3 separate regions of the Homo sapiens genome follow, and all the other regions are linked to region 2. Evidence: fine-mapped expression QTL. A gene starts in region 2. Each other region holds a variant in brackets. All regions are shown on one strand. Distances are between the middles of the regions.

Evidence for each region. PIP is the estimated chance that this variant, and not a neighbour inherited with it, causes the effect. A credible set is the group of variants that fine-mapping cannot tell apart.
Region 1: its variant is the best candidate, but not a certain one, in a credible set for the expression of FAM221A in whole blood (INTERVAL, PIP 0.67).
Region 3: its variant is the best candidate, but not a certain one, in a credible set for the expression of FAM221A in whole blood (TOPMed, PIP 0.63).

Annotation. Positions count from the first base shown.
Region 1 is chr7:23,718,841-23,727,027 of GRCh38, reverse strand. The region is part of intron 4 of STK31 (serine/threonine kinase 31); the gene reads right to left. It also overlaps the pseudogene PCMTD1P3. Among named protein-coding and RNA genes, the nearest start is that of STK31, 13 kb to the right of the region's middle. RefSeq lists enhancers at 2,437-2,964, 2,965-3,492. The variant T/C (reference allele first, on the strand shown) is at 4,973.
Region 2 is chr7:23,676,588-23,684,774 of GRCh38, reverse strand. It overlaps FAM221A (family with sequence similarity 221 member A), which reads right to left and starts at 4,576. Exons shown (of 7, transcript NM_199136.5): 1 at 4,492-4,576; 2 at 103-276. The coding sequence starts at 4,556. RefSeq lists an enhancer at 3,773-4,022 and a silencer at 4,353-4,642.
Region 3 is chr7:23,701,338-23,709,524 of GRCh38, reverse strand. FAM221A (family with sequence similarity 221 member A) reads right to left here. Exons shown (of 7, transcript NM_199136.5): 7 at 6,875-7,429. The coding sequence ends at 7,361. Among named protein-coding and RNA genes, the nearest start is that of STK31, 4.8 kb to the left of the region's middle. The variant C/T (reference allele first, on the strand shown) is at 4,947.

The DNA.
Region 1 (8,187 bases), 42 kb before region 2:
CTGACTTCAGAGTTCATTATGCTATTCTGCATCTCCAAAATGAGGAGGGAGGGGTATAAAAAGCAAAAAAAAAAATTTTTTAAGGCACAAGCATCAAACACTTAAAATCACACTATTATAATATCTGAGGCGATAATTGGTACAATTTTTTTTAACATAAACATGGCAAGTACATGCCACGTAAGTCTAACTCTCAACTATAGTGGAATTCATATTTCCTACCAAGCAAGAAAGATTTCATACTTTTTACTTTACGTATAAGGACATTAGTCCTATTAAGTAGATAAAACTAAATTAGATAATATCTTTAATACTGTACTTTATTTTATATCTCAATTGAATGATGTTTAATAAAAGAATAAAGAGAAAATTTATGTACTTTCAATCATTTTCTTTTCTTTTTTTTTTTTTGAGACAGGGTCTCATTCTGTCGCCAGGCCTGGAGTGCAGTGCAGCAGTCATGGCTCTCTGCTGACTCAACCTCTCCAAGCTCAAGTGATCCTCCCACCTCAGTCCCCACGGTAGCTGGGAACATGGGCACGCACCACCACGCCTGGGCTAAGTTTTGTATTTTTTTTTTTTTTTTTTTTTTTTTTTTGTAGAGGCAAGGTCTCACCATGTTGCCCAGGCTGGCTTTCATTTTCTCGAACTTCAAAGTAGCCTTAGCACTACTGGCACTTGGGACCAGATGAGTCTGTGTTGAGTGGCAGAGTGGGGCTGTCCTCTGTCCTGTGCATTGTAAGATATTTACCAACATCCCTTCTGGCCTCTAGACACTAGATGCCAGTAGCACCACTTCCAGTTGTGACAAGCAAAAACGTCTCCAAACACTGTCAAATGTCTCCTGAAGGTGTCTATGATTTAGATGGATATCATTTGGATATCATCCACCAAATCTCATGTTAAAATCTGATTCCCAATGTTGGAGGGGGGCCTGGTAGGAGGTGATTGGATAGTAGAGGCAGATCCCTAAAAACGGCTTGGTGCCATTCTCGTGGAAGTGAATGAGTTTTCACTCATAGTTCCTAAGAGAACTGGTTGTTGAAAAGAGCCTGGCACCTCTTCCTCCCTTTGCTTCCTCTCTCACCATGTAATCTACAGACACTGGCTCCTCTTCACCTTCTAATATTTGTGGAAGCACCCTGAGTCCCTTGTTAGAGTTGTATAAAAAGCAAAAAGACTTTTTTTAGAAGACACAGGCATCAAACACTTAAAATCATACTATTTTAATGTCTGAAGACATAATTGGTATAATTTTTTTAAAACATAAACATGCGAAGTACATGCCACTTAAGTCTAACTCTCAACTATACTATGTTGGAGTTATGCTTTTTGTACAGCCTACAGAACCATGAGCCAAATAAACCTCTTTTCTTTATAAATTACCCAGTCTCAGGTATTTCTTTACAGTAACAAAAATGAAGTAAGCCATGATTGGATTGGGAAGGATACAAAAATCACTGCAGGCTGATAACTACTTTTTTTGAGATAAGGTTTTACTCTGTTGTCCAGGCTGGAGTGCAGTGGCATGATCATAGCTCACTGTAGCCTCAAACTTCTGGGCTCACACAATCCTCCCGCTTCAGCCTCCCAAATATCTGGGGTTACAGGCACACATACCATACCTAGCTTTTTTTTTTTTTTTTTTTTTTTTTGTAGAAACAGGGTCTCACTATGTTGCCCAAGACTGGTTTTGAACTCCTGGCCTCAACCAATCCTCCTGCCTCGGCCTCCCAAAGTGCTGGGATTACGGGCATGAGCCCCCATGCCTGGCCTTAACAGCTTTAAATCATACATTCTCAACTGGGGCAATATCCCTAAGGGGAATAAAAGTGGTCCTTATGGAGAGTTGGAAATCTTAAACACTACAATGGTCTGTAGCCCTCCAAAGTTCAACCCTACTGATAACATAGTTATTATATACTGTATATCTGTAGTATTAAAATATCTGAAGGGGAGAAGGCCCATTAGGCCATTAGGGAGAAAACAGGTCTAAAAATGCTCCTTAGGAGGGAATAATGAGAAAAATGGCTGAAGAATACTGCTTTAAGTTATGGATTATAAAATTAATTTCAATGTATCACTCTGAACTAGGACAAATCCACAGATTTATTTTATGAAACCTAAACACCAAACCTATTCACCAAAACAATAAAGAACACATAAATTCAGACAAACAAATAAATAAATAACAATTCAAAAGCTACAAAGGATAAGTGTATTCAATTCATAATTAACTCCGGTTTCTTCAGCTAACATTAAACAACTAAAGGGCAAGAGAGAGCAGTAATAGTACGGTACTCTCTCTCAACCCTGGTAAGAAGACAGGGGTAAGTAGCAAAAATAGCTGACAATCAACAGTCCTAACCAATTTCAATCCCTGCAAAAGACTGCATCATCTTTAATTAAGGCTTTGTAATAACATCACAATATGATTAATAATTTGGTATAAGGTAAGCGACAGATATGCAATGGTTTATTGCAAACCAGGTGAGGCAGGGCTGGGAACACTTGTGTCCAAGAATAGAGCTGGTACTGTAATGCCTAACCTTGTTTTTACTCTAACTCGCTACTTTAAATTTTGTCCTGTTTGTCTCTTTAATCACCTAGCCTTGCTTCTCAAGTAAGACTCTCTCTAGCTGGGAAAGCCGGACAAACTCCAATTGACCCCTTAATTTACAAGACACTAAGGGCTCCTTACCCAACCTCCTTCCGCAAGGAGTTGACCTGTGTAAGCAGATCCTCAGCATTTCAAAGGAGCCCAATTAACTGATAAGGTACTGGCACAAACAATGTATGAAGTTCCCAGGATTTTTTTCAAAGAGATAACAACATAAAGCCTTGAGTTCCTGTCCGGCATAGCATTTATATCTAATTATAATGAAGGATTTAGAGCCCTGCACCTGGTACCTTGCTTTTTGTAACCATTTGTCTTTTAAATTGTTTATCTCTCTGTAACCATTTGCTTCTTTTGATTCTTGCATGTTTTTACTTCTGTAGAATTACTGCATTTGAGTTCCCCTCCCCTTCCTAAACCAAGGTATGAAAGTTAATCAAGCCCCTTCCTCCGGGCCGAGAGAATTTTGAGCATTAGCCGTCTCTTTGGCCGCCAGCTTAAATAAAGGACTCTTAATTCGTCTCAGAGTGTGGCGTTTCTCTAACTCGCCTAGGTATAACAGTACTCAACAAAGTGAAGAATCTGAAGTTCGTGGCTCTGTTAGTGTAATACAACCACCAAAACATGTAAATCTATCCCAGATAGACTTATCTGTTCTCATGACATAGTGAAAACTATATATTCACTCTCATTGTGCCTGGGCCCAATCTTCTCCTCCCACAACTCCACTATTCATAGCCTATGACCCTTCTACATGGTGGCAGAGGGAGAGAACCATTTAGATCACTAAGGAAAACTGACAAAGTATAATCCATTTATGAACAATCAGAAGTAGCTGATTAATCACTTAATTACTGACACTTGTTTAAATTTTTGATAAGGTAATTAATTTTATATTCAATAGAAGAAAAGGAGTATGTCTTAATTTATAACAATATTAAACACAGTCATAGGTCAGGCACAGTGGCTCACACCTGTAATCCCCCCATAAAAAAAATTTTAAAAATTGAGGAATGAGTTGGCTCCAATGATGGGTCTCAGATGGGCTAATTTTTATAGACATAGTCTCTGAAAGAAATCTGTCAAGGAATCATATAGAGACACTTATCTGCATGCTCATTCTCCATTAATATAGAAAGGAGAATTGGCATTAGACTGTTTCAGCAAATAAAAGTAAAATCAAGATTTATAAAGAAAAGAGGAGAGAGAGGTTCCAAGATGGCCGAATAGGAACAGCTCCAGTCTGAAGCTCCCAGTGTGAGCGACGCAGAAGACGGGTGATTTCTGCATTTCCAACTGAGGTACCGGGTTCATCTCACTGGGGCTTGTCAGACAGTGGGTGCAGCCCACGGAGCAGGGCAGGTATCGCCTCACCCAGGAAGTGCAAGGGGTCAGAGAATTCCCTTTCCTAGCAAAGGGAAGCCATGACAGATGGTACCGGGAAATTCGGGACACTCTCACCCTAATACTGCACTTTTCCAATAGCCTTAGCCAACAGCACACGAGGAGATTATATCCCACGCCTGGCTCCGAGGGTCCCATGCCCACGGAGCCTCGCTCACTGCTAGCACAGCAGTCTCAGATGAACTGCAAGGCGGCGGCGAGGCTGGGGGAGGGGCGTCCGCCACTGCTGAGGCTTGAGTAGGTAAACAAAGCCACCGGGAAGCTTGAACTGGGTGGGGCCCACCACAGCTCAAGGAGGCCTGCCTGCCTCTGTAGACTCCACCTCTGGAGGCAGGGCATAGCTGAACAAAAGGCAGCAGAAACTTCTGCAGACTTAAACGTCCCTGTCTGACAGCTTTGAAGAGAGTAGTGGTTCTCCCAGCATAGACTTTGAGATCTGAGAACAGACAGACTGTATCCTCAAGTGGGTCCCTGACCCCCGAGTAGCCTAACTGGGAGGCACCCCCCAGTAGGGGCAGACTGACACCTCATACAGCCGGGTGCCCCTCTGAGACGAAGCTTCCAGAAGAACGATCAGGCAGCAACATCTGCCATTCCGCAATATTTGCTGTTCTGCAGCCTCCGCTGGTGATACCCAGGCAAACAGGGTCTGGAGTGGACCTCCAGCAAACTCCAACAGACCTGCAGCTGAGGACGTGAAGGTCCTGACTGTTAGAAGGAAAACTAACAAACAGAAAGGACATCCACACCAAAACCCCATCTGTACGTCACCATCATCAAAGACAAAAAGTAGATAAAACCACAAAGATGGGGAGAGACCAAAGCAGAAAAGCCGAAAATTCTAAAAATCAGAGCGCCTCTTCTCCAAAAGAACGCAGCTCCTCGCCAGCAACGGAACAAAGCTGGATGGAGAATGACTTTGATGAGTTGAGAGAAGAAGGCTTCAGACGA[T/C]TGGTAATAACAAACTTCTCCAAGCTAAAGGAGGATGTTCAAACCCACTGCAAAGAAGCTAAAAACCTTGAAAAAAATTAGACGAATGGCTAACTAGAATAAACAGTGTAGAGAAGTCCTTAATGACCTGATGGAGCTGAGAACCATGGCACGAGAACTACGTGACGCATGCACAAGCTTCAGTAGCTGATTTGATCAAGTGGAAGAAAGGGTATCACTGATTGAAGATCAAATGAATGTAGAGGATCATGCCTGTAGAGGATCAGTTAACGCAGAACTGGACAAAACACTTGGGAAAGGAAAAATATCCTTATTGTGTCATTTGCTCCACTTGTGCAGCCAAGTAAGAATGATAATGGTAAACCAGATTCTGTGGGACTCCCTCCCTGTGCTGTCAGGAATCCACAGGGCTTGGCTTGTATTTACATTCGACGCACACTTAGAAATTTCATAAATGATGAGATGCAGGCCAAGGGGATTCCGCAAAGGGCTCCACCCAAAAGGAAAAAAAAAAAGAGAGTTAAACAGAGAACTAACACATACATATTTGTGGGTAATCAGCTTATTCCTCAGCCTCTGGACAGAGAGGAGGATGAAAAAATGGAAGATAACAAAGAAGAGGAAGAAAAAGATCACAGTGAAGCAATGAAGCCAGAGGAGCCACCTCAAAATTTACTGAGAAAAAAATCACAACGCTGCCCCTTCCTGAATCTTTAAAAGCTTACTTGACATATTTTAGAGACAAATAGTTTAGATCAAGGAGAAAGAATGCCACCAGTAATTCCCTTAGTCTTGAAAATGTAGCGTTTGTTAGGAGTTAAGAGAGAGAATTATTTCTTTCATCAGAGCGAATTATAGTGGAAAAAAGCAAAACTTGTTTCTGTCAGTAACAATAATAATGTAAAAGAATCCCTTTTATAAAATCTATTTTTCTTTAAATCTTGGAAGAATGCTGTTTTAGCTCAGAGTGATATCAAAGTGGAATGAAACAGTAATCAAGACTTGTGTACTATAAATCCTTTTCTGATTCCTTACAGATTTGTAGTGGTAAGGGTTAGATTTAATTTTATATAAGGTTTAAATAATCATCAAGCTTATATAATGTGATCTGAATTGCAGTTGTTTGCATTTCCTCTATAAAAACTTTCTCTAATAAGGAAATCAAATGCTTTGTAGACCTATTTACCTTACTTTTGTTGCAGTCACTGTTGCTGGGATGCTGTACATATATTCCGGGGTAATATATGGGTACAAAACTGTACAAGATATTGAATAATTTAGCTTTAAAAAATCCCACAAATTTTATGAAATTTTACAGTCCTGCTACTTCTGCTTTTGAATCTCTTGCCAGAAGACATGGGTAAAATATCTGCTTCTCTCATTTTAAGAGCACAGCCAAGTGAATTATTAAAATAGAAAGTATACACTTAATACAGCTCTTAGTTTGTATGGACCCTTTACATTTTCAGTATTTTTTCTTTAATGAGGTTATCTTAACTCTCTAGCATTTTAAAAGTGTATTTAGAATTGTTTTTCCTGTAGTTCACTATATAAAGCATTTGGTTTGAAAAAAAAATTGTTACGTGTGACTCTTGATAAGACACAGAAAGAGTGAAAGAGCATGAGTGATGGCCACCTTCCTGGCTGTCTCTAAGTAGCAGGGTAGATATGATCCCAGATGCACTTTAGCAAACGGAACTTCCAACTTATCTGAGTATTTATCTTTGACAAGGTAGGGCTAAGCTTGCCTAGATTTGCTTTGGATCTTTCTAGTATAAGAAATATTCACAGAAATTGTTTGTTTTCAAAATCCTGTTCTGAAACATATCGTAATCTTTGGGACCCATGCCATGTTCATTTCACTTCTTCCCATATTTTTCGTGTTTCTTTTGGTAAAATTATAATGGCTTTCATTTTGTACTTAATATCACACACGTAAACCATCCATCATTTGAGCTTTATTGTAGCTTATCAGTGATAAAAACAGGCAGTAACTGCCATTGTTTGTTTGTTTTCCTAGTAAGGCCTGAAAACAGACATTCTTTGTTAAGAAGGTGTACAATGTAACATATTTACTAGTATTACATGGATTATATATTTCTTAAAGGGAAAAAATTTGAGAGTATCATGGACTACCACCAGCATTGTTATTACAGTAGTTGCTCAGATTTGGTTAAGGAAGCCCAATCAATGTATAGTGAAAGTATTATTATATCTCTGCTAAGATTCAGATATTGTTTCAAAAATCTCAGCTCCAATAATTCCACACACCTAAAAACAAGTGTTTATACTCATCTAAGCATGAAATTGTCCCAAGTAAGTGAGGATATTTCAGTAATGTGAAAGATACTTTCATGGAAGGTATCTGTTTTATACCAGTGGGTGGGGTGGTAGAATTGGGAGTATTTCTACAGTTATTCTTAGATGATTACTGAAATGCCCCATCTCATTTCTATTTAGGAAAGGAAAAATCAGTTTCATACTACTGTTGTCACCTGTCAGAAATGTTCACTTTATTTTGAGTTAAATGTTGCTTTAGAAGTTTAATCTTGAATTCCTGGTGACCACATGTTTATATCTGGAAAACTTGTGGAGAGTTATCATCTGCCCTTTCCCCCACTTTTTTTTTGGTTAGAGCTTCTGTTTAGATGTGTAAAGACAAATATTCTTAAATGATAATTTTACTATTTAGGAGGGAGTTTTTGTTGAGGATATATTTGAAGATTGGCTTTTTCATATTGTCTTTCATTCTTTGGCCTTGGCAAAGTGTACAGTAGATTTTCATGATCATTGCATACTTTTTGTCATTGAAATATATCTTTTATTTTTTAAATGCATTCATTTTACAGTTGTGACTTTATCATTGACTTTAAGAGGTAGAAACAAAAATGAAAATTAAAGTGAAAAAAACATACAGAATGCCTACAAATCAATCAAGACAAATAACCTAATTTAAAAATGGGGAAAAGATGTGAATAGGTACTTCACAAGACCCCTTCCAAAGGGCTAATAAAAATATTAAAACACAACCTCAGTACACTAGCAAAGCAGGGGGCTGGTGAGGATATCGAGGAACTATAACTCTCATAAATTGCTGATAAGAATGTAAATTGGTTCAACACTTTTGCAAAGCTGTTTGGCAGTATCTACTTTGGCAGAAACATGTCTACCCTACAATTTAGCAATTCTACTCTAGATATATGTGCAAAAGAAAT
Region 2 (8,187 bases):
ACAATTGTTAAATGTTTCTCAATCATTACGATTTGTAGAAGTAAGATATGCTTAGCTTTTTATTTTCTAATTATCAAAAAACTTTGCAATAAAGTATCTTACCTATGTGTACAAAAACACAGTGTCTCTGGGCCCACAAGTTTACAATCCATCCCTGTTGGTGACCGCCAGCTCACAAATAATCTGTTTTGTAAGCGCAGAGGTAAAACTTTTCTTTTGTATTCTTCATATTCTTCAGGAGTAAAAAGTTTCCCTCCATCATCCTCACCAACAATTCTACAACAAAAATATATATTTCTCTTAAGCTTTGAGTATTTATTTTCTGGGTGAGCTATGACCAGGCCACTGCAAATATTAAATAAATTTGTAAGCTTTTATTTTGTAAATCTGTCTTTTCTTACAGATGTGGCAGGCCGGGTCTCTGTAACAACTGTTTCAGCACTGACTGAGTGGTTAAGTTAAATATTAAAAGCTAATAGAACCAGGGTCCTTATACAAAGGCTGGAATGTAACAAAAGCCCACCGAGCGTTTGCCCAGGCCTTTCCTGGGCCTCGAAGCATGACAACATAACGAAGGAATTCTTAAAGGACCCGTTTGGGACTAAACAAGTTTTACTGGGGGTCTGAAGAAACTCCCCAGACCTCCACAAACAAGTTTACTGGGGGTCTGAAGGAACTCCCCAAACCTCCATGATTCAGCAGGAGACAAGACCAGAGTAATCACCCCAGCACCTGGACCCATTTAGATTAACTAAATTTACTGAGGCTCCAGAGGAAGGTCTTCAGGACTCAGATCTTAGTTATAGATTAGAAGTTAATCATTTATGTCTTTAGATAAATGCACACTTACACATAAACATATATATACTTATAAACATATGTAATTTTGAATTGGTCTGGCGATATCTTCCAGGCCTTCTCCCTATAACCAGTTACAGAAATAATCTCCCTTCTTTCCCAGTTCATCTGAATCACATTACTGGGCCACGAGAATAGGCAGCCCAACTATCGGTTTGATCCAGAAACATAGGTGTCTCAGCCATGAACCTAGTGATGGGTGAGAAAAGAAATCTTTTCTCCCCTCCACTTCCTATATAAGAGGGTTATAAATAGGAAAGACAATGAATTCATAATGCAACTTTACTGATCCAGGTTTATCAACAGAGGATTACCACATATTCGTCTCAGCTTTTCCTTTGATATTGAAGCAAAGATGTTCATTCCTCTCATTAAAGGTAGAGCCTTAACTGCTCAAAATTCTAACATTTACCTCCTTTGAAAATGTATCCCAAAAGAGTACAAAAAACATCAAAGCAGAAGCCAACATGACTAATTTCCATACCTGTCTCCAAACCCTGGCCAGGGGTTTAAACTAATGCGGAACCTAAATACACACTTGGCTCAGCACAAGCTCCAACCACATCTGTGTGTTAGGTAATCAAGTTTATCATGGGTTAATTTCAGAAGTAAGAACCCAAAATATTATGGGAAAACATAAAGCCCCCACTATTTCTATGAAAAGAAATTAAGAGTTGGCCTCCCTGGAGGAAAAGAAAGCACGACTAAAAGAAGTTTTTCCAAAACTGAAGACATTTCTCCCTGAAAATACTCCCCTTGAAAAGTCACAAAAAGTGATGTTTGTGGAATGCTACATACTTTTTTGTGCAATACATGCTTTTTTCCATACTTTGAAGCCTTTAGCTGCGGTAGAAAATAAAAACCATTGCTCTATGTACTTGCCATTAGAAAAAAAGAAAAACCAATTTATAAGCTATGAAATAATCAAAACCGCCTTCTTTACATAAACAATCTAGATACATAATAGTAAAGAAACAAAGGGCATTTAATTCTGAGATAAATTTTGGGCCATTTCATTTTCTTGTAGCTATCAAGAATACCAACAGGTATTAAGATCTTAAGATAAATACGGATCTTTAAAAGATCTTTTAAAAGTAAGATGTCATTGGTATTTAAGTTCTAGACCAGTGCAACTCAAATTTTATTGTACTTACAGAATCCCCAGGGGATCTTGCTCAAATGCAGATTAAGACTCACAGCACAGTGGCTCATGCCTGTAATCCCAGGACTTTGGGAGGCGGAAGCAGGAGGATCACTTGAGGTCAGGAGTTCGAGCCCAGCCTGGCCAATATAGCAAAACCCTGTCTCTACCAATAATACAAAAATTAGTATTTTGGTGGGCACCTATAATCCCAACTACTCTGGAAACTGAGGCACTGAGAATCACTTCCACGGAGGCAGAGGTTACAGTGAGCTGAGATAGCGCCACTGCACTCCAGCCTGGGCAGCAGAGCAAGACTCTATCTAAAAAAAAAAATAATAATAATAATAATAATAATAATAAATATATATATACATACACACACACACACACACACACACACATGATAAAGCCAGATGTGGTGGCTCACACCTGTAATACCAGCACTTTGGGAGGCTGAGGTGGGAGGATTGCTTGAGGCCAGGATCTCAAGATGAGCCTGGGCATCCTAGTGAGATCCCATCTCTACAAAAAATTTTAAAATTAGCTGGGTGCGGAGATGCATGCCTGTAGTCCTAGCTAGTTAGGAGGCTGAGAAGAGAGAGTCGCTTCAGCTCAGGAGGTCAAGGTTGCAGTCAGCCATTATAGTGCCACTGCACTCCAGCCTGGGTGACAGAGCGAGACTCTAAATAATAATAATAATAATAGGTCTGCAGTGGGCCTGAGATTCTGCTTTTCTAACAAGCTAACAGGTGATGCCAGGACACTGGTCAGGGCCTCCCACAGTGTGAGTAACAAGGCTGCATGCTTCCCCTCCCAACCGACTCCCACCGAAGTACCTAGGCAAGAGCAAATCCAGGAAAACTCTTCGGAAGGAAAGTTTGTTTCCTTCTAAACTCATATTTTGACTCATCTTCCCACCCCACCTTCCCAGCCCACCTTTTCATATCTAGGTACTCAAGTCCTGTTTTCCCCACTTTTCTAAAATTCTGACGTCAGTAAAGGACCTGATAATCTCTTTCAGAGGGAAGTGTTGCAAGTTATTTACGATTGCAAAAATAATTTCCCAGCCGGGCGCGGTGGCCCAGGCCTGTAATCCCAACACTTTAGGAGGCCGAGGCAGGTGGATAGCTTGAGTCCAGGAGTTCAAGACCAGCCTGGGCAACGTGGTGAAATCCCGTCTCTACAGAAAATACAAAAATTAGCTGGCCGCCTGTAGTCCCAGCTACTCGGGAGGCTGAGGCAGGAGAATCACTTGAACCCAGGAAGCGGAGATTGCGGTGAGCCGAGATCGCGCCACTGCACTCCAGCCTGGGAAAGAGTCAGACCCCGTCTCAATAAAATAAATAACTAAATAATTTCTCAATAAAATAAATAACTACATACATAGGTCTGCCCTAACATGTTCGGAGCTAGGCAAGAGTCAACTGGAGGCCCACAATTCACATATCTAAATATCCAAGTTATCAGTCAACACCAGCTCCAGCAACTTGCTCCCAGGCAAAAGCTCTGGAGAACTGGAGGCTAAAGGAGCCGGCTCTGCTCTGGGAGAGGACGGGATGGTGGTTGTTCTGACCCTGAACCGGGCGTGGGAACTGACCCCATCAAGCTCCTAGCCCTTATTCTTCTGGCTCAGAATATCCAGGCAGTTCTAAGGGTTACCCAAAACTACACAAACAGGGCAGTCAGAGCAGGGGAGAACAGTCAGCTGGGGGGCCGTCTGCGCGCACACCTCTGGGTCATCTGGGCCACCCACGATGCCGCAGAGGAGCCCCTGTCGCTCGCTCCGGCCTCCCTGGCGGAGCCTGGAGCGTCTCCCCTCCGCTTGTACACACACATCCTCCCGCCCCAACTCCGCGTCCTCAGGCGGTCCTCTCCAGGACTTCCCATCCGCCCAGATTCCGGACGATCAAAAACCCCAGGAAGCGGAAAAAGAGCGCGTCGCTGCAGGTGCACCAGCCTCGGTCAGGATCCAGGACAATGAACCGCGTCCTCAGGCCAAAGGAGCGACTCCGTTTCCAGTTTCGGAAGGGGTTTCTCCAGAATACCAAACACCAGTCGGTGCCTTTCTCCTAAAACCAGCACCTCGGGGTGGGGAGCGCGTTCAGAAGTTCACGGTTGACTCAATTACTGGGTTAATTTGATGTATGCTAACTTCTATAGCCCCGAGTACTCGATGTGCCTGTTTTCAATGGCCATTTAAAAAACAGCTGGACCTCTGTATCAATCTAGAGTTAGTCATCCTTCTTGGAAGGGAGCAGAGGGGCCTCTTAAATGTTATTGGAAGACTCATCACTGCATAGAACCGCGTGGCCCTACAATATTTAATTAGGCAAAGACTAAACTGGAATTCATCTAGGCCTCCCCCAACAGCCCAGGCACAGATTCCGGGAACCCCCGCGGACGCCCGCCGGGCCCCTGCTCGCGCCCCCAGCCCAGGGATCCTGGCCCCTCGGAGCGGCGGGGGGGCAGGCCCGGAGCCACAGCCTCACCTCCGGTACTCCAGGTACTCGTCCACCGCCGCCGCGCCGCCGAGAGGCAACGTCAACCGCTCCATTGCCGGTGGGGAAGCCAAAGGCTTCCCTGCGGACCAGCTGACCTCGAAGCCCGACCCGCCCCGTTCCCTCCCGGTACCGCGCCCCCTCCCGCCCGCCTCCTGATTGGCCCGGCCTGAAGCCCGAGGAGGCCGCGCGCGGCAACTGCGCAGGACGCGCGCCCCTACTGGCTGCCGGCGCCAGGCACCAGAACCCGGATCTCCGCAAGCGCAGCCTCGCGCCACATGGAGTGCAGTTTGCCGCCCTCCACAAACCTTGCACCTATTCCCCTCTCCCTTCCCTGGACCGGCGAGTCTTCTTGTAAATTAACAAGTGACAAGGGAGTGCAGTGCCTTGCATATAACAGGCGCATAGAAAATGGCTTATTTCTTTGTACAGCTCTTTTCGCTTAATCCATCTCTTGAAATATAAGTAGTTTTGAGAAGGTTCTGCTTTAGTTTGAGGCCTGCCTCTCCTTAACTGTCGGCCTGTTTCCAGTATTGGCGTTTTCAAAAACTCTGATGTAACAATCAGTAGTCCTGGGTATCTGGGTTCACTTTGGGGGTTGCTAAAGCTACATGTTCTTCAAAGGAACCGAATAACTGATTTAAGGTGAAGCAAGTAAAAACAATTTAGGTGAAGTTTTGTTGTTGTTTTTTAACTTTTGGAAACACTCTGCAAAATATATTTAGAAGCTGAATTACCATGCGATTGGTAATTTGGCCATAATTTGACTTAGCACGTTGTGGAAAAGAATAGGAAATCTTCAGGCGAAGTCATTAAACTCTGAAGCTCCCAGGGGATCAGCTTTAGCGCCCTCTGTAAAGTATCTGGGAGGGAGAATATGCAAACAATAAGAAAAATAATTAAACTTCAGTACAGTACTTTAGTTTCAAAGTACTGTTCTACATATTTCAGGTCCATAAAACATTATGTAAACAAATTGTTTGGGTACCACCCACCTCCCTTCTCGGTACCCTTTCAACAAACCCCACCCTCTCCCCAAAGTCTTCCTCCTGTTCAGAGGCGTTCTTGACAGTCAGATAAATGAGTGATCCTGAAATCGGATTCATATTTTAGGAAACTGATCTCAGCTCAGTATTCTCTCCTATCACACGTGTGGTTTGCTGCTGTCCATTTTACCTCTTCCACCCGACACCTCCCAGATGGGGTCTTGCTCCGTCTCCAAGGCTGGAGTGCAGTGGCGGGATCTCGACTCACTGCAATCTCTGCCTCCTAGGTTCAAGCAATTCTCCTGCCTCAGCCTCCTGAGTAGCTGGGATTACAGGCACTAGCCACCACGCCTGGCTTTTGTGTGTGTGTGTGTGTGTGTATTTTTAGTAGAGACAGGGTTTCACCATGTTGGCCAGGCTGGTCTTGATCTCCTGACCTCGTGATTTGCCCGCCTCAGCCTCCCAAAGTGCTGGGATTACAGGCGTGAGCCACCACGCCCAGCCCCATTCTACCTCTATGAGAGCCTAGTCTTGCTTTTAGGCAGCAACTGAACTAACAAAGAAAAATAGAAGAAAATGCCAGGCTCTGCAGGCTTACAGAAAAGTGGCAGGGGAATGTCTGTGTAGGCAAGTACAATTTAAAAATCTAGAGGGAAATGGTTAAAATAGATTTAGCCCAATTGTGGACTCTTCCAGGAAGATGCTGGAGCAGTAAACTCTTCTGGCCAAAGAAGTCAACAAAAATATTGAGCGTGACGAATAAGAGTATGGAACAAACTAGAAAATGTTATCCTGACCTTACATAAAGCTGACAGATTTGCAAATTAAAATACTGTATATGGTACTCACCTCTGCTTTAATAAAAAGGTATAATCAAACTATAACTTCCTCCCAATGTGTAGCTAAATTGATCTAGGAAGTAGGGTGGACAGAGGAACATGTAAATTGCCTAGGCAAGTGTTAGGCATTTTATTTATTCAATCCTCATGAAAGTTTATGAGATAGGATTTGCCAGCATTTTGCTGTGATGTATAGGTTAAGAATGCTTTCTTCTGAAAATAACAGAATAATTCAACTAACAGTGGCTTAATTAAACATAAATTTTATTTTTTATTGCTTTAAAGAAGAGTGGGGGTAGGTAGTTGCTCACATTGGTTTAGAGCATTTTCCTCATGGTTGCAAGAGCTGTTACAACTCCAGAAATCATACCCAAATTCAAGAAAGGAAAAAGGAGGGCCACCAACATCATTTGTTTCTTTTATCAAAGAGTTTTCCTAGAGGCCTCTGCAAAAAAATTTTCATTTATGTCTCACATGGCCACACCTTGGTATAGAGAAAACTGGGAAAGCCAATCCAGTACTTAGTTTTCCAGGCTCTATGATGGCAATTGTCAAGGAGAGGGTTAGAAATGTGTGTTGGGGCAGGGCACGGTGGCTCATGTCTGTAATCCCAGCACTTTGGGAGGCCAAGGCAGGTGGGTCACCTGAGGTCAGGAGTACATGACCAGCCTGGCCAACATGGTGAAACACCATCTCCACTAAAAATACAAAAATTAGCCAGGTGTGGTGGCTCATGCCTGTAATTCCCGCTACTGGGGTGGCTGAGGCAGGAGAATTGCTTGAACCCAGGAGGCAGAGGTTCCAGTGAGCTGAGATGGCGCCATTGCACTCCAGCCTGGGTGATAAGAGTGAAACTCCATCTCAAAAAAAAGAAAAAAAGAAATGTGTGTTGGGTTAAAAATGTGTTTAGTTCACCAAGAAACATGGTTGGTGACAGCTTATCCTTAAACTGATTAATATCCATGCATGCCCTTCTTCCCATGCAGGCATTGCACACTAAAGGCATTCATCAGACCTCTAAGTAAGGCAGTCCCAAAATCTCAACCAGCTACTGCACCCAGCTTAAAGTCTAAGTCTCTGCAATCTTCTCTCAGTCATTCTTAATCCTGATCAGCCTGATTCTTATTGTCTTAATGGTTTGACAGTTGATAGCTACAAGACAAGAAAGATAATTATTCAGTATGTATCTCCAACAGATAACTTGTTTTTTCGTTTTTTGTTTTTTGGGTTTTTTTTTTTTTTGAGATGGAGTCTCGCTCTGTCACCAGGCTGGAGTGCAGTGGCATGATCTCAGCTCACTGCAGACTCCACCTCCTGAGTTCAAGCGATTCTCCTGCCTCAGCCTCCTGAGTAGCTGGGACTACAGACGCGCACCACCACGCCCAGCTAATTTTTGTATTTTTGGCAGAGACGGGGTTTCACCATGTCGGCCAGGATGGTCTCAATCTCTTGACCTCATGATCTGCCCGCTTCGGTCTCCCAAAGTGTTAGGATTACAGGCATGAGCTACCACGCCCGGCCAATAACTTGTTTTAAAATCCACAATGCCATTATCACACCTAACAAATTAAACAATAATTCCTTGATATCATCTAAGAATACCCAGCCTAGATATCATCTATTAGATATCATCTAATAAACCTAATTTATTAGATGATAATTAGTGTCATCTAATTTTATACTAATTAGAATTCAACCAAGGCCTATACTACCTTTGGTTTATATGCGTTTAATATATTACGAGTCTTTTGTAATTTTAGACAGTTCCCTTTCTCCTATCCCAATTTTTTGTGCCATTAATTTGTTGAAGAATTTGGATCACTTTTCCTGTAGAATATCTTTCTGAATTTGGTTGTTTACAG
Region 3 (8,187 bases), 25 kb before region 2:
TGACTCCTCCCAGCTCCCGTTCTGCTTTCTGTCACCATATATTAGTTTGCATTTTCTAGAATTTTACGATAATAGAATCATACAGTATGAACATTTAATCTAGCTTCTTTCCAATAGCATAATTATTTTGATTGATAAATTTCGTCCTATGTGTCAAGAGTTTGTTGGGTTTTATTGCTGTTACTATTCCACTGCATGAATATAACACAATTTGTTTATCTACCTTTTAATAGGTGTTTGGACTGCTTCCAGTTTTGAATTGTTTCAAATAAAGCTGCTATTGTGTGCAAGTCTTTGTATGGACATATGTTTTCATATCTCATGGGTTAGTACCTAGGAGTGGAATGGCCAAGTCATAGAATTGTATATGTGCTTAAAAAATTGCCGCATAGTTTTACACAGTTGTACTATTTTATATTCCCACCAGCGGGTTTCAGAGTTCTAGTTGCTCTATATCCTCACCATCATTTGATATGGTTTGTGTTTTTAAGTTTAAACATTCATGTATAAATGTTTAAAGTGGTATCTCCTTGTGATTTTAATTTGCATTTATTTCTCTACTAACTAAAAATGTTGAGAAACTTTTCTTATGTTTATTTTCCATCCAGATCTTCCTAAATGAGGTGTCCAAGCTTTTTCCTGTTTTCTAACTGAATTTATTATTGAGTTTTGACAGTTCTTTATATACTGTGGATAAAACTCCTTCAGGTTTGAAAATATTTTCTCCCAGTCTACAGCTGTCTTTTTGTTTTCTAAAAAGGGTACTTCAAAGAACAAAAGTTTTTAATTTCAATAAAGTCTAATTTATCGGTTTTGTCTTATGGTTCATGCTTTTGTGTTGTATGTAAGGAATCTCCGACTAGCCTGGTTCACAAAAGTTTTCTTCTATATTTTCTTCCAGAAATTTTACATGTTCAAGCTTTACATTTTGATATATAGTCCTTTTTGAGTTTATTTTTATAACATGTGAAACAATCAAATTTTATTTTATTGCATATGGATATCTAATTTTTCCAGCATCATTTGTTTAAAACACTGTCATTTGTCTATTGAATTGTCTTTGCACTATTGTCAGAGATCAATTAACCATACATACGCAAGTCTATTTCTGGATTCTCTGTTCTGTTACACTGATCTATTTGCTTTCTTTAGACTAATACCACACTGTCTTAATTACGGTAGTTTTATTTCATGCGATCGTAGAAGCAATTTGTCAGCATCTACACACACACACACACACACACACACACACACAGAGCCTGCTGTGATTTTGATTGGGATCACATTGAATGTATACACCAATTTGAGGAGAATGGACATCTTAGCTATATTGAGTCTTCTGATCCATGAGCACAGTATATTTATTTAGGTCTTATTTTATCTCGCTGAGTGATGTTTTATGCTTTTCATTATAAAAGTTTTACTTTTGTCTGATTTATCCCTAAGAATTTCATTTTTCATGCCGTTGTAAATTGTATTATTTTCTTAATTTCAACTTGTTTGTTTTGTTGCTAGTATATAGAAATATAACTTTAGTATATTGTGTATTATTTCTGTGATAGTTTTTTTGTGGGTGGGTGTGTGTGTGTAAGACAGGGTCTCGCTCTGTCACCCAGATGAGAGAGCTGCGGTGCTATCACAGGTCATTGCAGCCTTGAGCTCCCGGGCTTAAGCAAGCCTCCTGCCTCAGTCTCCCAAAGTGCCGGTATTAGACACTGAGTCTAGCCTATTTCTAGTGATAGTTTTTAAAATAAATTTAACAGGATTATCTACATAGATGATCATGTCTTATGCAAATAAAGGCTGTTTTTACTTTCTCCTTTACAATCTGGAAGTCTTTTATTTATTTTTATCTTGCCGTATTGCAGTGGCTAGATCCTTCAGTGTAATGCTGAAAATAAGTGCTGAGAGCAGACACCCTTGCCATGTTCCTATTCTTAAGAGGAAAGCATTTTCCTTTCACCATTAAGTATGATGTTTGCTGTGGGTTTATAGTAGATACCTTTAATAGATTAAGGAAGTTACTTTCTATCCTGAGTTTGCTGAAAATTTTTATCATGAATGTGTGTTGAATTTTGTCAAATACTTCTTTTCATATCTATTGAAATGATCATGTGGTTCTTTTTTAGTTTATTAATATGATGAATTACATCAATTAATTTTCAAATGTTATACCAACCTTACATTTCTTGGATAAAATTCACTTGGTCATGATGTATTATCCTTTTTATATATTGTCTTATTAGGTTTGCTAAAATTGTTAAGAATTTTTGCATCTATGTTCAAGAGGAATATTGGTCTGAAATTTTCTCTTCTCATAATGGCTTTGTCTGGTTTTGATATCAGAGTGATGCTGGCCATATAGAATAAGTTGCAAAGAATTCCCAACTTCAGTTTTCTGGAAGAGTCTTATAGAATTGATATTCTTTGTTCCTTTAAGGCTTGGTGAAATTCACTGTGCGGCCATCTAGCCATCTAGGCATCATTTCCTCTAGTGCACATTCTAGCCATCTAGAATTTTCTTTGTGGTAAGGTTTTTAACTACAAATTCAATTTCTTTAATAGATATAGGGCTAATCATGTTACCCATTTAGTATTTAATGAGCTTGATAGTTGTGTCTATATTGTAATTTTTTTAACTTTATATTTTCCTGGTGCCTCAATATCCCCACAAATAGGCTATAACCACCCTGCCCAAGTGACCAGGTGTACCAGGGTGATAGGCTATTTCCTGCCACGTCCCGACTGTGACCTAATGACATTCAAAAAGCACCAATGAAATCCCTTCCCAGGTTTTCTTGTGTACTCTGCTCTGACCCCCAGTAAAGGCACTTGCCCATGGGTCCTCACTCTCTCTAAGCTCGAGCATGCTCCCTTGGCGTTCAAACCTTATATGTAGCCCCCATGTGGCATGTCATGCCTCCCTTTTCTAGAACAAATGAGTATAATGACGTCTTTAATTTTATATGCCTCTCTGGAATTTCCATGGCCAAACTGGAATGATCTTTAAATATCCCACAAAGGGGACTTACAACACAGTGTTTTTTTAAGGAATTTGTCCATTTCATCTGAGTTGTCAAAGTAATTGGCATAGTTATTTATAGTATTCCCTTAGTATCCTTTTAATGTCTGTAGAGTCTATAGTGATGTCACCACTCTCATTCCTAACATGGATAATTTGTGCCTTCTCTCTCTATCTCTCTCTTTCTCTCCCTCTCTCTCGTATTAGTCAGGCTAGAGGTTTATAAATTTTATTGGTTTTATTGATTTTCTCTCTTGCTTTTGTTTTCTATTTCAATTTATACTCTGGTCTTATTTTCCCTTTTCTATCTATTATAGTTTCATTTTCTCTTATTTTTCTAGTTACTTAAGGTAAGGGCTGATTTGAGATTTTTCTTCATTACTGATGAAGGCATTTTGGTGCTATAAATTTTCCTCTACATACTGCTTTAGCTGCATCCCACAAATATGATGTTGTGTTTTCATTGCCTTTCAATTACAAGTGCTTTTATTCCCATTTTGACTTTTTTTCTTTGGCCCATGGATCATTTACATGTGTTATATAATTTTCAAACATTTGAGATTTTTCCATGTATCTTTGTTATAGATTTATAATTTAATTCCACTGTGGTCAGGGGATATACTTTAAGATCTAAATCATCTTAAGAATATTGAGCCTTGTTTTATGGCCTAAAATATGGTCAATCTTAGTAAATGTTCCATTTGCACTAAAAAAAAAAAAGAATGTGTTTTCTGCTGTTCTTGGTTAGTGTGTTCTATAAATGTCAATTAGGTGAAGTTGGTTAATACTGTTGTTCAAGTCTTCTATATCCTTACTGACTTTATGTCGACATGACCCATTGGTCAAGGGAAGCATCTAGGTCATTAAGTCTGTCCTACAGCATCTAAGAAGCCCTGGGACAAGAAGCAAGAGCCATCAGTGTAGGTCCAAGGGCTCTGTCAGCCTCAAAGTATGTCTATCTCAATTATGTATATATAGGGAGAGTAGAAGTAAAGAGTGGGACCAGACCCATTTTACCTTCTGTGAGATTAACTTTGGCCAGGACGCCATTTGTCACTGAGCTTCCCTACTCTAACCAGTGAACCACAATGGTATTTTGGGTCTTCTGGAATCCATGTCAGGTCAGGCACTGTATCCAACAGTCATTGGTTGAAAAAAAAAATCTGACTATTCCTTTTTATCCATTGCACAGTTACCTTGGTAAATGATGGTACGTGACTGCCCCTTGGAGAAAGGATTAGGGGGATATTTACCAAATATATTGGATGATCCTTCCTCGAGGGGATCTGGGCCTTCCCTTGCATCATGAGCTTTAGATCTGGAAACTGGATGGGGAACTATGGTTTTTCATTACCAAGATTGATGTCAGCCTTCTCCTTGCCAATTCTCAATTTTCTTTTTTGAGGGGTGAGAGGAGTCAAATAATACAAGTCAATCAACATCATTATATAACAAGTCAATTATACAACTCAAATAACATCCTAATCAGCTGTCCTTCTGTCTTGCCCCTTGGAACATCATGAACTTTACCTTGTTCACAGATTCATGCCTAGGTGCCCATTAAGTTAATTAGGTCCACTGGGCCCCTGACAGTTAAGTTCTGCAACTTGGCCTTCAAAATTTCAGCATCCCATCATCTATCTACATTGATACCACAGAGCCCATTGTCATGACAGCATCTTCCATCATCAGTTCTAGCCTGTAGAGGTCAATCAACCATTGCCAAGCTTTTCAAAGTTTCCAGTATGCTCTTCACCATTACATTTCTCTTTGTTGTTGTTTGAGACAGGATCTCACTCTGTCACCCAGGCTAGTGTATTGGCATGATCAAGGATCACTGCAGCCTCAACCTCCTGGCTCAAGCAGTCCTCCCACCTCAGCCTCCCAAGAAGCTAGGACTACAGGCATGCACCACCATGCCCAC[C/T]GTGTGTGTGTGTGTGTGTGTCTGTATAGACGAGCTCTCACTATGTTGCCCAGGCTGGTCTTGAACTCCTGGGCTCAAGCAATCCTCTCACTTCAGCCTCCCAAAGTGCTGGGATTACAGGTGTGATCCACTGCACCTGACTACCATTATATATTTTTTTGCCTTAGTTATGAATATCATCTGGACCCTCCCAGGGAAAAGTCGGGTGATAACTTCTCCAGTTTCAAACAACAAATACATCCCTGAGCTTTCTGACCGCTTCCTCAATACTATGTCAGATAACTGCTAGCATGCCTATCATATCTTCTATATGCCATCCTTGCATTGTGTTAGGAGCAACTCCAGAGATTCTTGCCAGGGAATTAAATCATGCATCATGAGTGAGCGCTCCCATGTCACTCTCTCCTATCAAGCCTTATATTCCACCTCCACCCCACCCCTTGACTCAATATCCTCAAGATCTACTCTCAGACATGTTTCCTGGGTTCCTCCCAATACATTTTAACCAGAATCTGCAGTTGATTCAGAGTGAAACCTATCCTCCTAGAGGAAGGACTGTATTCCCCAACTTAGGGTTTGCTAAGACCTGATCCTAGTTATTACTTTGGAGTCAATGAGAGGAAACAAGGGTGGATCTTGAGGAGGATAAGTGTTACCTTGTGATGCAACTGCCTCAGATAAAGCCTTTACAGAATCTCAAGGTAAGGGCAGGCTATTCTCCACTAGAAAATTGGAGGACACGGCTTGTGCCAGCTCAGAGTTCATGGAAACCTGAGGATTCAAGATTCTCAGGCTCACCAACACAAATGTCCCATCCTGTGATTTAGGGTTCCACTGTTTTTGTGTCAGCACTGACTTTGCTGGGGACTAGCAAGGCTGTGCATTCTGTCTCCTCTGCAGCCCTGCCACCTTTACTATTAGATTTGGGCCTCATTGGCAGCACAGTCTGCCCTGCATCTGCAGATGAGTTTCCTGAAAGTGCTACAGAGGGACTCTGGCTTTCACAGCATTCCTTGAGTTAAATGGCTATCATGAGCCTGTGTCATTTTCTTTTTCAAAGCTCCTAAAGCATTTCACAGTAGCAAGTGAATACTTAATCTTTATAATTTCCACTAGTCCCATTTCACTGTAGTGGCACAGCGACTGCATAACCTAGCACTTCACCTGCCACCTGCACTTCATCCAAATCCACTGCAGTAACTGATCCAGTCACAGGATACTATCCTGAGTCTTTGCTGTCAAAGGCCATTCCTGGTACTAACCATCTTAGCCTGAGTTTATCCCTTGCCCAAAAGCAAAGCCTAAGACAAATGTTCTTATACCTGTAAGTGTTGTTATACAAGTAGTTTATTTGGGAAGTGATCTGAGGGAACTAGAGGGAGGGGTAGAGGAGTGGAAAAGGAAAAAAGAAAGATAAGGATATATTATTATTGAGTTGGCCACTGCTATGGGTGACTGGAGCTCAACGATAGGACTTTCTGAGGAAGTTTATGAAATGCATTTCAGAATTGTCTTCCCAACAGACGGGAGAGCACTTATGTATTGGGCTTCCACCTCCCATTAATCAAGAGTGGCCCCAAAGTCACTAGCTCCCCAACATCTTTGGGCTGCATATGTATCATACAGTGGGGTTCTAGTGGGCATCCCAAGCCACAGTGTCAGAAGATCCCTGCAGAAGGAAGCAAGAGAGCCATGACATGCGCCCAAGACAAGGTGCCATCAAATGGCTTCCGCTATCAGAAGCCTGCTGGAAAGTGTTCCACAGCAGTAATGGAGTAAGAAACGGGGCCAAGAGGATTTGCAGTGGCACACAAGATGTGTCCAGTACAGTCATAGACAATGGGTGGTTGACAACACAACGTAAAAATCAGTAGATATCTTCAGCCTGAGAAAGATTGAAAAAAAAAATCAGTAATATCACTAGAAAATGGTTGTAAAATTTTGAGATAGTTTTTATTTGAAAACATAACATTACAAAGTTTGAAAAATAAAAAAATTAATGATTTTAACTATTTTTTTCTTTTGTTCTCTTGTTTTTAACTTACTATTTTGAATGACAAAAAAATGGCTCATATGTTTGTCCAAAACCCTTGATAATATCTTTAATTTTTTAAATACCTGAAACAGTTAAATTATTATGTACTAAAAACATTTACTGTACTCTCAGACAGACTCATATAAAATAACCTCATTTGTCAGGAGAAAGAAAGGTACATACAAAGTAGTAAATTATGAGTTTTGACAAAAGTAATAGGCATTTTTAGTTATTTAAATAAATTAAGGAAACATCCCAAAAGACATTTATACAGTAAAAAAAAAAAGTAAATAATTTCAGGAAAAATAAACTGTATTATTACATTTAAATAAACATGAAAAAGATACTTGGATGATGGTTTTAATTTCTCCAATAGTCTTCATGAAGGTTTTGTAGCTGATGGCAATGGAGCTTTTCCTTTCCACTTAGCAGCCTTTTCCATTTTCATCTGTAAATTTAACATATTTATTGATATAATAACTTGTAAACCATTCTAAAGAAAAAAAACTTGCAGAAAACTCATTCAGATTCATGTCACAGCCATTCCACAGTTATTAAGCTGCTAAATACTAAAGCCAAAATCTGTTAAAGGGACATAATTACACATTTTCAGATGGTTTTATTTTAATTTTACAGAAGCATTTTAATAAAAGTAATATATGAATATTGCTTTAGAGAAAACAATTTCAATTGCCACTAAAATTACAAGTGCTTAAAATGACTAAACTTACATCCAGCCTATGCACATTCCCTACAGAGTTACATAATGCACCTAATCCAGCTGGATTCTCTCTGGAACGTGGACTGCTTTAAGGATAGTTTTCTATAATTCTGGTTTCTATATTCCCACAGTTACCTTTCTGAAAGTCTTTTCCTCCTCCATTGTAGTTAAAGCAAAAAAGCAGCCACTGTGCCCAGATGTGTATTGGGTAATTTTAACGAGTCTGGATACACCTAAAAGCCTCTAAGAAGAATAAATAATACATATTAAGAATTCAAAATAGGCACCAGGCGCGGTGGCTCATGCCTGTAATCCCAGCACTTTGCGAGGCCGAGGCGGGTGGATCACGAGGTCAGGAGATCCAGACCATCCTGGCTAACACAGTGAAACCCCGTCTCTACTAAAAATACAAAAAATTAGCTGGGCATGGTGGTGGGCGCCTGTGGTCCCAGCTACTCGGGAGGCTGAAGCAGGAGAATGGCGTG